Linked DNA regions of Homo sapiens: region 1 is linked to region 2. The links come from fine-mapping of genetic effects on gene expression. A gene starts in region 2. The other region holds a variant in brackets. All regions are shown on one strand. Distances are from middle to middle.

Region 1 (4,332 bases), 94 kb before region 2:
GTACCAGTCATGCCACACGGAGGAATGCCCCCCTGACGGTAATTACCACTCAGGGCCGCCCCTGCCAGAGCAGCTACTATCATTGCTATGACGCATCCCCAGAGGATGTGTAAAGTGGGAGTGAAGTGGGTGTCCCGGGATATAGAGTTACTCCCAGAGGGGAGTAAATTGGGTCTCCTGGGATGTAGAGTTTTGCCTGTGATCTCCACCTAAATGGGCTCTGCAAGGTTCCAATCCCAGGGGCAGCTCTCAGGGACCCGGGACAGCTCTCATAGTGTTCAGAGAGCCTGGCAAAGTCAAGGAGAGAAATTACGCTCATCTTCCAAGATGTGGAGAGGAGGACATCACTCCCAACCAAACTTATTGGGGAGGAGCCTCTGCAGAGGGGCTGGTGTCTAGGAAACTAATCCTCCTGGAGGCATAGGAACCCTCATCTGTGTGCAGAATGGAAGCATTTTCCAAAGCAAGTGTCAGAGCCAAACCTCCAAGGTCTTTCTAGCCAAAATTCAGCCCAGGGCAGAGGGAGGATTTCTGAATCTGATTCCTGTTCACATTCCTTCTGAGAAGAGTTGCCCATCTTCCCTTGGGAACATGGCAACTGTTTGACAGAATCTTCCCAGGAAGGAATACTACCTCTCCCTCCCCTTGGCATATTCCTATCCCCAGTACCTGCTGGAAACCATGAACATTAACTTAGAGGCAGTAAAGGGGCAGCAGCAAACTCGTGAGAGGGAAATCATTACAAGGTTTTTCCCCACCATCCCATCCAACTGCCCAGTGTGCAGCTCCAGGAAGGATTGGCAGGCAAGAAAAATCAGGCAGAGCCTTAGGAGAGATTCAACCACGGGAAAAGACACTGGCATTGGGTTGATGTCTCAGGAGAATCTGTAGGCTTTGCGGTTTCACAAGACAAGAAGGATCCACAATGGTTTGAGGCTCTAGAAACTTTGCCCTGGAATTGTATGAGAGTTTGCCTGGCATACAGGGTGAGACGTTGCTGGGAAAGGGGGAGGATGAGAATGAATATAGGGTGCAAGGTAGGTGTGGACGAAAAGTGATGCCATGATGTCAGATGCACCAAAGTCTGCCATTACTGTCGAGTATTTTTTAGTATTTTTTGTGTGTCTAGAACTATAAAAATGTATGAAAATGTAAAAGGCATGGTCTCTGTCCCTAAGGAGCTTGTAGTCCAATTAGAGACCCAAATCCCTTTAACACAGCCATTACATTTCAATGGATGAGTCACAGACCCTAGGTTGGTGAGGCGCTCGGAGAAAGGAAAGGCTGGGTGAGCGGAAGCTTTGAAAGGAGTTAGGACTGAGCAGAGTCTGGAGGACTGAGATGGGTGAGGTGTGAGGGGACCTGCCAGGGTGGTGGAAAGGTGTGAGAAGGGCCCTCATTCACTTAGGTGGAATCAAGCAAAGCACACCACTATGTCAAGGCCAGACCACAGAGGTCCTTGAAGGCTGACACAGTATCTGGGAGTTATCTGTGCCACCTGTCCCATTAAGTCACCTGGAAGCTCCTGCAGACACAGCCCAGACCCCCTCAGCTGCACTGACTCAGAGTCTCAGGCGTGGAGTATGGCATCTGCCTTGGCAAAGTCTCCCCAGGCATTCAGATGCACAGTTTGGGCAGGGAACCTTGGCAGGAAGAACAGCTTTAATTTTAGGATTTGGGGGTGGAAAGCAACCCACATCTAACTTCAGATGGGTTGGTCTGGCAGCAGCACGTGGCAGGATGGAGAGGAGGCAGGCACAGGTCCCCATGAAGCCAGCAGGCCTGGGCTTGTGGTGGTGAGAGTGGGATGCCATCGTTTTAAATCACAGATTGTCCTGAATATAGTGTGGGTCTTTGTGACAGTTTGGAAATAGCAGATAGAGATGCTCAAATGTTCGGGAGATACCAGGATACCAGTCTCAGACTTGGGCATGGTAAGATCAGCAAATGAAAGTCAAGACAGTTCGTGGAAGGACCATCGGGAGCTTGGCCATGCTGAGTTGGAGGTAATCACAGTACATACAAACGGAGCTCCCCAGGGACACCCAGAATTACGGAATGTGGGTGTAGGGGCAAGATCAGAGCTAGACATGTAGATTTAGGAGTCTTTGGATTCATGTCCGGTGTCACTGAGGAAATCGATACTGCACAATTAGTAGTGTCCTGAGAATATAGCTCCACATGCCATTCTGTGCCTTCCAAGCTTACTGAATTGTTCCCTGTTGCTCCCTGCGTTTATTCACCTGTAGAGTACAATGAGTCTCTTTCCCTAATGGAAAGGGCATTTATCCTAGAAAGCCCAGCATGCGGCTGGAGGCTCCTTTCCTTGCCCTTTTGAGTAAGGGTCACACATGCGTCTAGGAATGTTGTGCCCAGAAGACACTGGCCCTGGGCGCCTGGGTTGAGTTCAAAACCAAAAGAAAGA[A/C]GAAAAGTGCTGTAAATTCGGGATTTCTCCACCGGATGCTCCTGCTTCCGCATGGGTGTCACCTCCATGCCGTTTCTTCCTCTTTCTAGGGAAAAGCTTCAGGGAGCAGCAGTGTGAGAAGTATAATGCCTACAATTACACTGACATGGACGGGAATCTCCTGCAGTGGGTCCCCAAGTATGCTGGGGTGTCCCCCCGGGACCGCTGCAAGTTGTTCTGCCGAGCCCGGGGGAGGAGCGAGTTCAAAGTGTTCGAGGCCAAGGTGAGAATCACCCTGGGACTCAGATCCAGAGATGGGGAGGAAGGTCGCCTGTCCCCACACCCCCGCCCCCCGGCAGGCTGCTTCTGTGCTCAACACGCCCTCCCTCACCTTCCCTTTCCCCGTTGCAGGTGATTGATGGCACCCTGTGTGGGCCAGAAACACTGGCCATCTGTGTCCGTGGCCAGTGTGTCAAGGCCGGCTGTGACCATGTGGTGGACTCGCCTCGGAAGCTGGACAAATGCGGGGTGTGTGGGGGCAAAGGCAACTCCTGCAGGAAGGTCTCCGGGTCCCTCACCCCCACCAAGTGAGTCTCCCCAGAAGTTCTGTACCTTGCTTGGTAGAAGAGCATAATGGGCTTTGCACTCTGCTAGGCCCAAATTGAACTGTGGCTGCTACTTAATAGCTGTGAGGGTTGGGCAAGTTATTTAAACTCTCCGAGCTTCAGTTTCTTTGTAAAATGTCAGCAGTATCTCTATCTCAGAGTCGTTGTAAGGATTTCCTGAGATGGGATGTGCACTTGGCAGTGTCGAGCTCATAGAAAAGATAGAACACAGGGCAGCCGTGACTTTTACGAGGGCTGGAGGCCATGTGGATAGGGAGCTGTCATCTCTGAGTCAATCGAGCCACACTGAGTAACCTGGACCTCTGCCAGAAAACAGCTCTCCCAGGCCTGTTTTGGGAAGGACGTCTCACCCTAAGCCTGGCAAGCCCCTGTCCTTTCTGCAGATGGATCTTCAGAGAAGGGGGTTACCAAAAAGGGGCCCTGGCAGCCTCAGGGCTTTCATGAATCTGAGAACTCCAGACACTTTTTTCTCATCCTAATGCCCCACATTCATAAAACTCCAAGGATTTTCCAAAGCGCTTTCATTTCCATGGTCTCATTTGATTTGTAAAATAAGTCCATGAGGTGAGCAAGGCCAATACTATTCCTCATTTTGCAGAGGAAGAAATTAAGGCACAGAAAGATTAAATGACTTTTCTAAGGTCACATTGATGGTTAATGACAGCCAGAAGAGAACCTAGTTTTCCTAAGTCCTGGATGACTTTTGTCTCCCATTCCATGTACTTCCTGCAGAGTAAGGGCAAGTTCGGGTGTTTTATATGGGCCACACTCTGCCTGTCTGCCTCCAGTACATCAATGTGTCCTAGGGCTTATGTGAGCATCCACCTGTCCAGCCACTTCCCCCACTCACGGTCTCAGAGTTTTTGAGAAGTGTTCACTGTATTGTATTCTACCTAGTGAAGCTCGCAAACCCTGCCCCATTCTGTGTGTGTGTGTGTGTCTGTCTGTCTGTCTGTCTGTCTCTACATCTCTCATCTCACCAGTCTGAGAGAACAGAATCAGCCTACAGCAGGCAACTTGGGACTGTTTTCATTTTTTTTAATTTATTTTTATTATTTTGAGACAGAGTCTCACTCTGTTGCCTAGGCTGGAGTGCGGTGGCACGATCTTGGCTCACTGCAACCTGCTTCCCAGGTTCAAGCAATTCTCCTGCCTCAGCTTCCCAGGTAGCTGGGATTACAGGCATGCACCACCACACCCAGCTAATTTTTGTATTTTTAGTAGAGACTGGGTTTCGTCATGTTGGCCAGGCTGGTCTTGAACTCCTGGCATCAAGTGATCCGCCCGCCTTGGCCTCCCAAA
Region 2 (4,385 bases):
GGAGTGGCACGATCTCGACTCACTGTAACCTCCACCCCCTGGGTTCAAGTGATTCCCCACCTCAGCCTCCCAAGTAGCTGGGACTACGGGCGCGTGCCACCATTCCCAGCTAACTTTTTTGTATTTTTAGTAGAGATGGGGTTTCACTATGTTGGCCAGGCTGGTCTTGAACTCCTGACCTCGTGATCTGCCTGCCTTGGACTCCCAAAGTGTTGGGATTACAGGCGTGAGCCACCACACCCAGCACAGTTGATTTTCTATATGCTAACAGCCATCAATCTGAAAAAGAAATCAAGAAAACAATCTCATTCACAATAGCTACAAAAAAGCAAAATAAAATACCTAGCAATAAATGTAAGCAAGGAAGTGAAAAATCTCTACCCGGAAAAGTGTACACATTGATGAAAGAAAATGAAGAGAACAAAAAAAAAAAAAAAAAAAAAAGGAAAGATATCTCACGCTCATGAATTGAAAGAATTAATATTGTTAAAATATCCACACTACCCAAAGCCACCTACAGGTACAGTACAATCCCTACCAAAATATCAATGACACTCATCACAGAACTAGAAAAAAAAATCCTAAAATTTGTATGGAACCACAAAAGACCCTGAAAAGCTAGGGCAATTCTGAGCAAAAATAACAAAGCTAGAGGCATTCCTCTACCTGACTTCAAGTTGTACTACAAAGGAAAGCAAATTTTTGTGTCAGTGTAGTAGTTGAGGAGCTGCCACCACAGCCCCTGGAGAAGCACTTAGAAAAGACTTGCCTCATGGTCTTTTATTGACTATCCTGTTAAAGGCACTAGGAGAGGTAGATAGGATTTGACTACTTCATTTCCACCCTGATTCTTGTCCAGTTGCTTACCACCTACATACATTCTCACACATTCCTCACCAGGGCCCCAGCTCATGCCCTTTCCTGAGCCCTGCTCTGTGGCCGCCAGTCCTCTCCCAGGTAAGCATTCCGCCTTCTTTCCCTTCCCCTCTTCAAAACTTAGTGCAAAAGTTTCTGGGCCTAGTTCGCATCTTTCTGATTTTTCTCATCTCTGAAATGGGAATAATAAGAATGATAGTGGGAATAATAATAGAAACCTGTGATAAAACCTGTGAATTACAGTTGCCGTAAGGATTAGATAACATTATACATGCTTGAAAACTTGTTGGAAACTGCGAAGGACTATAAAAACAGAAGTTGTTTTTATTGCCTTTATTCCTAAAGAAGATTGCAAGTGTCAGGGTGTTCAGGTGCTTGGCTGCTTGTCTCTCAGAGTGAATTAATGTGAGATGTTGCCAAGTGTTTCAAAAGGAAAATCCACTCTACTTCAGCGGGACGTCCACCCACCTTGCACAAAACCCTCTGGAAAGAAGTCTTTCGGTTTGCAAACTGGAGGCGTGGGAAAACAGAAAGCGCCCAAGGAGCACCTGCCCGCACCCCGCCCGCCCCCAGGCACCTGGGGCGCTGCCGCCTGCAGTCCCGGGAACCCCTATGACCTCCGGGGGCGGTGTGGAGAGCGCTCGCCCGCCTGGCCAGGGGAAGCCAAGACTTAGGGCCCTAGGAGTTAACTAGGTTGATTGATTTTGCAGTTGACCAAGAACTTCAAAACCCCCCGGGCGGTACCGGTTACTTCGGGGAGGCCCGCACACTTCCTCCGGGAAGGCCAGGAAGTAAGTGATGGTGCAGTAAAAATGACAGATTCACGGTTGTGGAAGAAGTAGGGTATATTTTTGGAGCAGCTCTAGCTGTCCCTGTGTTGGAAGAACGAGAGGGACCTGGGAGTCCGTTTCTCCACTCATCTCAAGAACCGCACGTCCTGCCAGGTCACCGAGGCAAGTGCTAGAACGGAAGAGAGCAAGCACTGCGAGGAGGCCCGAGGAGCCACGCAATCCAGACACCCGCCGCATGTCGCAGTCCGCCCAGGACGGGGGCGCGGGCTCACCTGTCTGCGGGGCGGCCCTTGGCAGGCCTGTTTCCATGGGTGAACAATGGGCACCTTACCAACTAACCTCCCTCGCCGAAGAGGGGCTGAAGTGTTTCTATTTCGACCTCCCTACAAAAACTACCCGAGAAAATAGGAGTTATGTTTTTAGTTCGAAGAAAAAAATAATGCTATAAATGTGACTCCTGCGGAGAAATGCTTCTCAGGTGTGAGAGGGGAACTGGGTAAGAGGACGGCTTAGAGGAAGGACAAATGGGACAGGGCTTATGGGGCATGTGAATGTAAATCGGCACATGTGCGCACATATGCAAAAATACAGTGTCAAGACTCACGGCCTTTCTGGGTCACGCAGGCTCCACCGTCTAAGGAGACGGAGTCACCAACAGTACAAGTCCCGACGGCCAAGAGGGCCCATTTTCTGCGCTTGCGCAATCATCACGTTTCCTTCCCCGCCCCGAGCCCCGCCCCCGAGCGCGCTCCGCCCCGCCCCCTTCTCCTCCCCTTCCCCAGCCAGGCCGCCGGCGCAGAGCATTGTGGGACACAAACAAAGTGCCCCCAAACAGGCTGGAGTGAGCGGAGCGGCAACGGCGGCGGCGCCGGCCGCACGCGCGCGGCGGCGGCTCCCTCCCAACCTCCCCCTCCCCTCCCCTCAGTCCCCTTCCCCTTCCCCACCCCGCCCCGCTGGGAACACGCGAGCCGTCGCCGCGCTCCCCAAACAACCGCCTGCCCTCGGCCAACCGTCCCCAACGGTCGCCAGCGCGCGGCTCCCGGGCCCCCTCGCTCCTCCCCTCTGGCCCCTCCGAGCGCTGGGGGTGCTTCCCTCCCCGCCTCCTCGCACTCCCACTCGCGGGCACGCCGGTGGCTGTGCCGCCATGCCCCACCACAGGCTGCTCACGGGCCTAGGCGCGGCGGCCCGAGATAGGGGCCCCTGAGCCTCCCGGGGGAGGAGAGAGGCAGCGAGCCGCGCTCCGCCCCCTCCCCCCGGGCCGCCGCCGCCGCCGCCTCGCCGCCCCAGCCTGGCGGGAGAAGGAGGAGGAGCAGCAGGCCTCCGGGCCCGGCGCCGCCGCCCGCAGGTAACGGGGAGGGGAGGGCGGGCTCCGGTCGCGCGGGGGACGGCCCCTGCACGCTGCCCGTGGCTGACACCGCGTGGCCCCCACCTGGCGCCGAAGGGAGCGGAGAGCCGGGTCTGTCAGCCTAGTCCGCGCCGGGAGACACCCCACGGGATCCCCTCGGTGGCATTTAATCCTTCTGGGAGGAGACCGGCCTTGGGCCCCGCGGTCCCGGAGCAGTTACCCCGACCTTCCAGGGAGCTGCCCGTCCTTTGCACGCCCATTTGCCCAACACCCTAACCCGGAGCGGCCGGAGTGTTGCCACCTCTCACCTGGTCGAACCCGGGAGGCTCAGACCTGTTTTTTTTCCTCCTTTCCCCTTCTGCTTTTTCTCTGGTACAGAAAGAAAAAGATGGCACTTCTTTAAAAAAATATATATATATATATATACACACACACAAACACACACACACATACACACACACACACACCTCTTTTCCTTTCCTTCCTGAGGATCACTCTGCATCTAGTCGTTTTATTGCTGGCCTAATCAGAAAAAGGGGTTACCTCGAGAAATGACAGGTACGTTAGAACTGATTAAAAGGAAATTGCGTCCATGTGAGTTCTATGAATCCAAGCAGAATTTACAATAAAACCCCGTAATTGTGTGCTTTTTTTTGGAACTTACAAAAATGAAGACAAAAACTTAATTTCTTTTTCAGCGTGTAAGTAGATAATCTCTTGAAGTCAGGAAGAAATTCTCCATAACTTCCACTTATTTTCTTAATGCTTTATTTGGAGATCGGCTGATACCGGAAGCAAGCTGCACGATTTTGATTTCCTTTTCTCTAGGTGTTCAGTTGGAATTCTTGGGTTTAAAAAATACTGTATAAATCTTCATTTCCCCCATTACTTCACTTGGACTGTCAGTGGATTAATAATAATTTTACCTAATGTAGTTTCCCCTTATCATAGAATGTGAATATAATGAACGTAGTCCTTTAGTTTTGTATTTTAGGATTATTAGTAATGTACTGATTAATTATGAAAACCAGATTATTCATTTTGTGCAGTACTGCTTGGCATTTTTGCATTTGTAATTATTTAATTCTCAGAACAACCTAATGATGCAGATATTATTACTTGAATTTTATAGAAGTGACAAACTTAGTGATACGAAGAATTACAACTTGCCTTAGGGCACACAACTAGTAAGATAGTTTAGATTTCAACCCAAATATAATTCCAGTATAGATGTACTTTCGTGTACTTTCTACCGTACTTCTCAATAGAAGTACAATTTTATTAACTTTGTTATGAAAAATTTTAGTCGTATAGAGGTTCGTTCTATACAATTGTGATCGGTTATTCATGCAATGAATAAAAATGCTAATCAA

Direction of the effects. Positions count from the first base shown, and alleles are read on the strand shown. Sizes are in standard deviations (SD) of each study's normalised expression.
For the expression in cerebellum of the gene that starts at base 2,394 in region 2, C is the high allele of the variant in region 1 and A is the other (moderate effect, 0.46 SD a copy in GTEx).

Evidence for each region. PIP is the estimated chance that this variant, and not a neighbour inherited with it, causes the effect.
Region 1: its variant is the best candidate, but not a certain one, in a credible set for the expression of ZBTB44-DT in cerebellum (GTEx, PIP 0.68).

What each region holds. Positions count from the first base shown.
Region 1 is chr11:130,407,123-130,411,454 of GRCh38, reverse strand. ADAMTS8 (ADAM metallopeptidase with thrombospondin type 1 motif 8) reads left to right here. Exons shown (of 9, transcript NM_007037.6): 6 at 1-38; 7 at 2,515-2,687; 8 at 2,816-2,991. Among named protein-coding and RNA genes, the nearest start is that of ADAMTS8, 19 kb to the left of the region's middle. The variant A/C (reference allele first, on the strand shown) is at 2,426.
Region 2 is chr11:130,313,002-130,317,386 of GRCh38, reverse strand. It overlaps ZBTB44-DT (ZBTB44 divergent transcript), which reads right to left and starts at 2,394. Exons shown (of 7, transcript NR_148980.1): 1 at 2,272-2,394. It overlaps ZBTB44 (zinc finger and BTB domain containing 44), which reads left to right and starts at 2,470. Exons shown (of 8, transcript NM_001301098.2): 1 at 2,470-3,012. RefSeq lists silencers at 1,377-1,436, 2,347-3,176 and enhancers at 1,737-1,836, 2,007-2,106, 3,267-3,316.